2 linked regions of the Homo sapiens genome follow. The protein of the gene in region 2 interacts with the protein of the main gene of each other region in a biochemical or structural test. Each region holds a gene or a part of one and is shown on either strand. Other genes may lie near its edges.

What was found. The genes of interacting proteins can lie anywhere in the genome.
Region 1: the proteins of CLTB (region 2) and HIP1R form a complex in vitro, tested with the Homo sapiens proteins (2 studies listed by BioGRID).

What each region holds. Positions count from the first base shown.
Region 1 is NC_000012.12:122,852,457-122,855,956, reverse strand, and holds part of HIP1R (huntingtin-interacting protein 1-related protein), read right to left. Parts: intron 1,915-3,500; coding exon 1,774-1,914; intron 1,053-1,773; coding exon 995-1,052; intron 905-994; coding exon 829-904; intron 693-828; coding exon 552-692; intron 407-551; coding exon 345-406; intron 127-344; coding exon 54-126; intron 1-53. UniProt on the Homo sapiens protein: Component of clathrin-coated pits and vesicles, that may link the endocytic machinery to the actin cytoskeleton. Binds 3-phosphoinositides (via ENTH domain).
Region 2 is NC_000005.10:176,396,040-176,399,539, forward strand, and holds part of CLTB (clathrin light chain B), read right to left. Parts: intron 2,009-3,500; coding exon 1,891-2,008; intron 1,680-1,890; coding exon 1,568-1,679; intron 494-1,567; coding exon 440-493; intron 1-439. UniProt on the Homo sapiens protein: Clathrin is the major protein of the polyhedral coat of coated pits and vesicles.

The DNA.
Region 1 (3,500 bases), on a different chromosome or scaffold from region 2:
GGCCCTGCCTGGGCCGTGAGGGGCCCTGGCCCCCACCCATCCCCACCCCGCACCTCCAGCTTGATCTTCTCCAGTTCAGAGCGGAGCATTTCCACCTCTCTCTTCAAGCTCTCAATCTGGAGGTCCCTGGGGACAGAGGTCCTGGGGTTCAAGTTAAGTCAACCAGAACAGTCAACAGACCCAGCACAGGAACCTGTCTCCTCCTCAGTGGCCACTCAGGATTTGGGCACCTCACGGGTTCATGTTCCCCACCTATGGCCTTTCCAGACAGAACTGTCCAGAGCACAGCTCAGCTGAGCCCGTTTCCAACCACCCCCAGCCCAGTCGGCTCCTCCAGCCCTCACCTGTCGTCCTTCACAGACCCATTGGGGGGTCCAAACGTCTGATCGAAGAGGTCAGCCACCACCTGCCACAGCAAAGCATGGTGACCCCACTCACCTGTGCCCTCCAGGCCGGGCAGTGGGCAAAGGGAGGGCTGGCCACCCGACACTCCCGTTGGCCTCATGCTGCAGCTGGAGGACTGGGGGACACGGGCTGGGCAGGGGGCTCACCACTGGCTCCCCCGCGGGGGGCCCTGTGCTGATCTCAATGAGATTCTCCGGCTCCTCATCTTCCGGGGCCTCCTCGGGGATCACCACCACCGGCTTGATGTGCTCAGCCAGGGCTGAGGCCCGCAGGAAGTTAGGGGGTCCCTGCAGGGGCGGCAGGTGGGACCTGCTCAGCTGTCCCCTAAGCAAGCCCTCCTTCCGCCATCTCCATAGCCTGTGTGGGGCCCAGCCAGGTGCCTGGGGTCCTCAAAGGGCCTCGGGGCCCTCTTGGGGGTGGTACCTCGGGCAGCCGGGGGATCTGGATGAGCCGCTTGAAGTACAGCATGTCGGAGGCTCTGCGGAAGAAGTTCCTGAGGCTGCAGAGATGGTGGGAAGTTCGGGTTCAGGAAGGGGCCACGGAGCCTCTCCCCCACCGGCCTCAATCCTGTCCCTGTCCCAGGCAGTACCTGTGAAACTGCTCGTGGAACCGGTCCCTGTGGCCTTGCAGGGTGTCCGCAGGGAGACCTGGAGGGTGGCACAAGTGTAACAGGACTTCTCTGCACACTGCTCAGGGGCTCACCTGCCCTGCCTTGTTCCTCCGTATGCTACAAACTCACAGATCAGAGATCACCTGAGACCGGGCCAGGCCCGCTCTCCCATCGGGATGGGGAGACCTGTGGGAGACGCTGTGGGAGGGCTCAGTTCAGACTGAGCTAGAGAAGGAAACAGCGAATGGAAAGGAAGGCGCTGCGGCCACATCTCACCTAACCCACACCTGGCTTCGGGAGGCACTAGCAAGCCGCTTTCACCAAACACGTTGGTCCCAGGCTGACACTAACACAGTGGTTCTCAAAGTGCGGTCGAGGGACGAGACCCTTTCAAGGGGTTGGTTAGATCAAAACTCTCCTAACACCCCAGACACCTTTTGCCTTTTTGCGCTTGCACCCCCAGGGTGCCTGGCGGGAGATTCCTGGGAGCAGCTGGGGCCTCCGTCTTGGCCGAGCCAGGCATTTAGTCGTAAAAATGAAAACCAAGCCACTCACTAAGTTTTTTGCTTGGTAAAGTAGTGGGTTTTTTTTTTTTTTTTTTCATAAAATATATGTTATTTCTATTAATGGGCAGTGGGTTTATTACTGCCATTTTTAAATGAATAAACCTCTAATTTTTCGATTTTCCTTTTTGACAGTGAATGTCTAAGCCATATAAACACAGCCTTCCGGGCCAGGGGTTGCCCTGGGCCACTCACAAGAGTGTAGCTTGAACAGGAGCTTGACCGTGTAGTGGTAGAGGTGGCTGCAGTCCTGGATGACCTGGATGAGGGGGGCCAGGCGGCACTGGCCTGAGGACATCTGGGATACGGCGATGGCCGTGTTGAGCTGTCGGAAAACTGTGCAAAAGGGGCAGGAGGAAGAACGTGAGCCCTTGGGAGCTGGGCAACCTGTCCAAGGTGGTCCAACTGTGAAGCAGGGCCCTAAGCCAGCTCCCACACACCAGTGTGCCCCCTGCCTCCAAGACGGGAGCCTCATGTGCTGGTGGCTGCCCCAGGTCAAGACCAGATGCTCCCATGAAGGAGGTCAACGGCAACAACAAGGTCAGGGCAAAGGAGCTCCCAGCCCAGCTCAGCAAGGGCTTCCAGAGACCTCCACCTGGGAGCCCAGGACGAGGTGCCCGACTGACAAGGGTGACGGATAGCTCCATGCCCACGGGCCTCAAACCCACGCTGAATGTTAGAGCAGGAAGGAGGCTCACGATGGAGCACCCCAAATGCCTAACTTTACAGATGTGGGAACAGGCAGGGCTTCTGCCAAGTAACACGGCACTAGGGTCACAGCTTGGCTCTGCACACCCCAAGTGACCCTGAAACCTCGCTTGCCCCCAGGGCCCATCTCCCCTGCCCCTGACACCCCCAGGGCCCGTCTCCCCTGCCCCTGACACCCCCAGGGCCCGTCTCCCCTGCCCCTGACACCCCCAGGGCCCGTCTCCCCTGCCCCTGACACCCCCAGGGCCCGTCTCCCCTGCCCCTGACACCCCCAGGGCCCGTCTCCCCTGCCCCTGACACCCCCAGGGCCCGTCTCCCCTGCCCCTGACACCCCCAGGGCCCGTCTCCCCTGCCCCTGACACCCCCAGGGCCCGTCTCCCCTGCCCCTGACACCCCCAGGGCCCGTCTCCCCTGCCCCTGACACCCCCAGGGCCCGTCTCCCCTGCCCCTGACAATCGGGCCTTGTATCAGAACTACCAAGTGGGAGGGACAAAGGACAAACATGAGGCTGCCTCCTCCTTGGCTGGCAGCTTCTCTGGGGCAGAGAGAATGACAAAGAGCAGGCAGCTGGCCAGCACGGGAGAGCGGCCAGACAGCCCCCGCTGCACAGACCTGTGCCCTGGCCCCTCAGGTCCTGCTCCTGCCTTGCCTGTGATGGGACCACTTGCAAATCTCTGCAGTGACAGGAGAGAGCCTGGGGGGGAGGGGCAAGAAGGAAGACACAAAGTGCCGCCCCTTGCCTTTTTAAAAAAGTAATCTCTAATTACATGTCATGCTAAGTATGTTTTCCTTGCAAAAAATTACAGCACACATAAAGTACTGCTTGGATCTTCAACACGTATGTCCATGCTGTTCGGCAATCTGCTTGATTTCACACAGTAGAATGTTTTCTAGATCTTCCCGGCCATCCCAGATTCGACACATCTCTCTTCCCACCACCCTCCGTTCTCTGCTCTGCACAGACAGCGAGACGCAGCCTCTGCTGAGGCATGTTTAGGACGTTTGTGTTTCTTTGCTGTTACAGGTCCTGAGGCAGGGAAGCCCCTGTACCTGTCACCTCTGCAGATCTGGGAATTTCTCCAGCAGATGCTGGTACACCCCATTTGTGCTTCATCAACACACCAGCGTCACCAGGTGGGAAGCGTGCCTGTGAGTGTTCTCCACTTCCCTCGTGGGGCCACTGCCTGCCCACACTGGCCTTCTCCCATGCCAGG
Region 2 (3,500 bases):
CAGGAGAATCGCTTGAACCCAGGAGGTGGAGGTCGCAGTGAGCCGAGATCGCAGCACTGCACTCCATCCTGAGCAGCAAGAGCGAAACTCCATCTCAAAAAACAAAAAACCCTTCACCCCACACACCCACCAAGAGACATCACAGAGGGAGGGAGTTGGGGTGCTCTGCCATTTGCCCCTCCCACATGGGAATAAGTGGCAAGCACATTCCTTTCTCTGCCTTTATCCTGCAAGGCTCTGATTTAGCCAAGCAGCCTCCACTTCACTGGAGGGAGGGAGGTGGTTGCTGCCTGCACCCACCAGGGCATTTGCCTCCTGTTCTGACCATTGCTCCGAGCCCAGCCACACTCATTTATATCCCACAAGCAGGAAACTCAAGAAACTGTGGTGGCCATTCCCTCTCTAGCTCCCCCAACAGAGAAGCAAAACAGACACGTACACGTAGCCGATGATATCAGCATCTGGCTGCTGGTAGAATGCTTTGTCAGCGATCCTTGAGGGAAAGGTTGAGGGAAGGGGTTAGGTGGGGGAAGGCAGATGGCAAGACAGACAGGCAGGCAGAAGGTTAGAGAGAGAGAGAGAGACAGCATTAGTACCTCCAGTGGGAGAAATGTTAGGAAGCATAGTTCTGGAAGGCTCAGCAACGACCCACAGCCCCAAACAGGAGAATGGGGACCTTCACCCTGGCCCCAGCACCTTCTCTAAAATTCATCCCTGATCATGTTACTCCTGTTCAAACACCTTCAGTGGCTCCCCACTGCCCATGTCACTGCCCAACTCATCAGCCAAGGCCCTTACAGTGTGAGTCCACAGGTTCCTGCCTTCTCTCCCACCGCTCCCTGGCCCCCTGTTGCCTAATACATCACATTTTTTTCTTCGTACCCAGGTCTAGAATGCCCCCCTACCTCCTGCCCTTTTTTCCCTTTTTTCCTCCTAGTCATCTTCCAAAGCCCAAGTCCCAAGACACAGAGGTCTCTCCCTGACCTGTTTCCTTGCTTCCATGGCCTTCGTGCAGAGGGCCCTACTGTATTTGAGCTTAGTTGAACATGTGTGTTTTTCTCCTCTGCGCCCTTTGAGGACATAAGGCTGGGTCCTCCTTATCTCCATCTCCTCCGTGCCTACCCCAGAGCCTGGCATGCAGCAGTTCCCTAGACAGAAGGGTAGCTTCCCAGAACAGGCCTTTCCCTTCCTGGAAGACCTTGTACCGTGAAGGACAGAGCCTCAAAGGCAGGGAGCACTGGGCAGTGTTCAGTCATGTCCCCACAGCCCCTCTCATGTCCCCATAGCCCCTCTCATGTCCCCACAGCCCCTCTCATGTCCCCACAGCTCCCTCTCATGTCCCCACAGCTCCCTCTCATGTCCCCACAGCCCCTCTCATGTCCCCACAGCTCCCTCATGTCCCCACAGCCCGTCTCATGTCCCCACGGCCCCCTCATGTCCCCACAGCTCCCTCATGTCCCCACCCCTTCATGTCCCCATGGCCCCCTCATGTCCCCACGGCCCCCTCATGTCCCCACAGCCCCCCTCATGTCCCCATGGCCCCCTCATGTCCCTACAGCCCTCTCACCGGTTGTTGATCTTGTTCTTCTCTACTTGTTCACTCTGGCGCTGGTTCCACTCCTCCAGGTCCTTCTTGGCCTTCTCCCGCCATTCCTGTTCCGTGACCTTAGATGCAGCATCTAGGACCCCACAAGAGAATGAGTGGCTGCTTTCCAGCTGGGATGCACAGGCCCGGCCGCGCTCCTCCCCTGGCCCCTGCCAGGCAGCCACAGGGCCGCACCGGCCCAGTCCCACATTAAGGCATGCAGCATCCCATGCACTCCGAGGACTCCCCACACTCCACCCCACACACAGCCCACCCAGCCAACCCCGCCTCAGCCCCGCCCTCACCCAGCTCTTGCAGCCGTTTCCTCTGCTCCTCTCGCCACTTGCGGATGCTCTCAGGCTCCTGGGTCAGCCTGTCAGCCTGGGCAATGGCTGCGTAGCCATCAGCAGGACCGTTGGCCTCCTAGAACACAAACACGCAGCAGTCTATCCAGCCAGCACACCTGCCCCGCTGTCTCTGCTGCCCCTGCTGGGGACCCACTCATGTCTGGATAACTCAGCCTCAAACAACCTCATACCCACTGTCTCTGGTGACTACACCTATCTTTGCACTTGCTGTTCCCTCTGCCAGCAACACTCCGCCACCTGTGTGACTGCGGGCAAGTTACTCACCCTCTCTGTGCCTGATCATTGCCTCTGGCCCAGTTATAGGTTTTGATACCCCCAAAGCAGAAGACTCAAGAAAGCGTGTGCCAGCCACTTTCTTTGTCATAAAATGGGCTAAATAACAGTATGCACTCTGATGGGAGGACATAAGGATGAAATGAGTTAAAAATTATAAAGAATGTCGGGCGCAGTGGCTCACACCTGTAATCCCAACACTTTGGGAGGCCGAGGCGGCAAATCACCTGAGGTTGGGAGTTCAAGACCAGCCTGACCAACATGGAGAAATCCCGACTCTACTAAAAATACAAAAAATTAGCCAGGCGTGGTGGTGCATGCCTGTAATCCCAGCTACTCCGGAGGCTGAGGCAGGAGAATCACTTGAACCCGGGAGGCAGAGGTTGCAGTGAGCCGAGATCACACCATTGCACTCCAGCCTGGGCAACAAGAGCAAAACCCCGTCTCAAAAAATAAACAAATAAAAATAAAAAATAAAAATACTGCTTGGCACAGTGAGTCCCTTGTGTTACCGTCATTAAAATCACTCTCTATTGTGGTTGTATTAACTCCTAACACTTAGTCCAAAAAGACCTCAAGACCTCACTTTTTTTTTGAGATGGAGTGTCCCTCTGTTTCCCAGGCTGGAGTGCAATGGTGCAATGTTGGTTCACTGCAACCTCTGCCTCCCAGGTTCAAGCGATTTTCCTACCTCAGCCTCCTGAGTAGCTGGGATTACAGGCACACGTCACGACACCCGGCTAATTTTTTGTAGTTTTAGTAGAGACGGGGTTTCTCCATGTTGGTCAGGCTGATCTCGAACTCCCGACCTCAGGTGATCCACCGGCCTCGGCCTCCCCAAGTGCTGGGATTACAGGCTTGAGCCACCGTGACCAGCCCAAAAGGACCTTACTTTATAATGTGTTTGTCTGTCTCTGCCATCAGAATGTCATCTCTGTCCTTTTCACTGCTATGTCCCCAGAGCCCAGCACAGTGCCTGGCCCAGCAGATGCTCAGTAGATGTTTGTTGAGTAGAGAAGCATCCCTGAGATATGCAGCATGATCATAGCTCAGATCACACCATGGGAAAGAACTTGGACTCTGCAGCCAGGCTGTCTCGGTTCAGATGCCACCTCTGATACTATGAAATGTTTGTAAGGCCTGGGAGAAATTGCTTAACCTTGCCTGACTTTTGTTTTCTCATTTGAAAAATGGGGCTGGGCATGGTAGCTCATGCCTATAATCCCAGCACTTCGGGAGGCCAAGGCAGGAGGATCACTTGAGGCCAGGAGTTT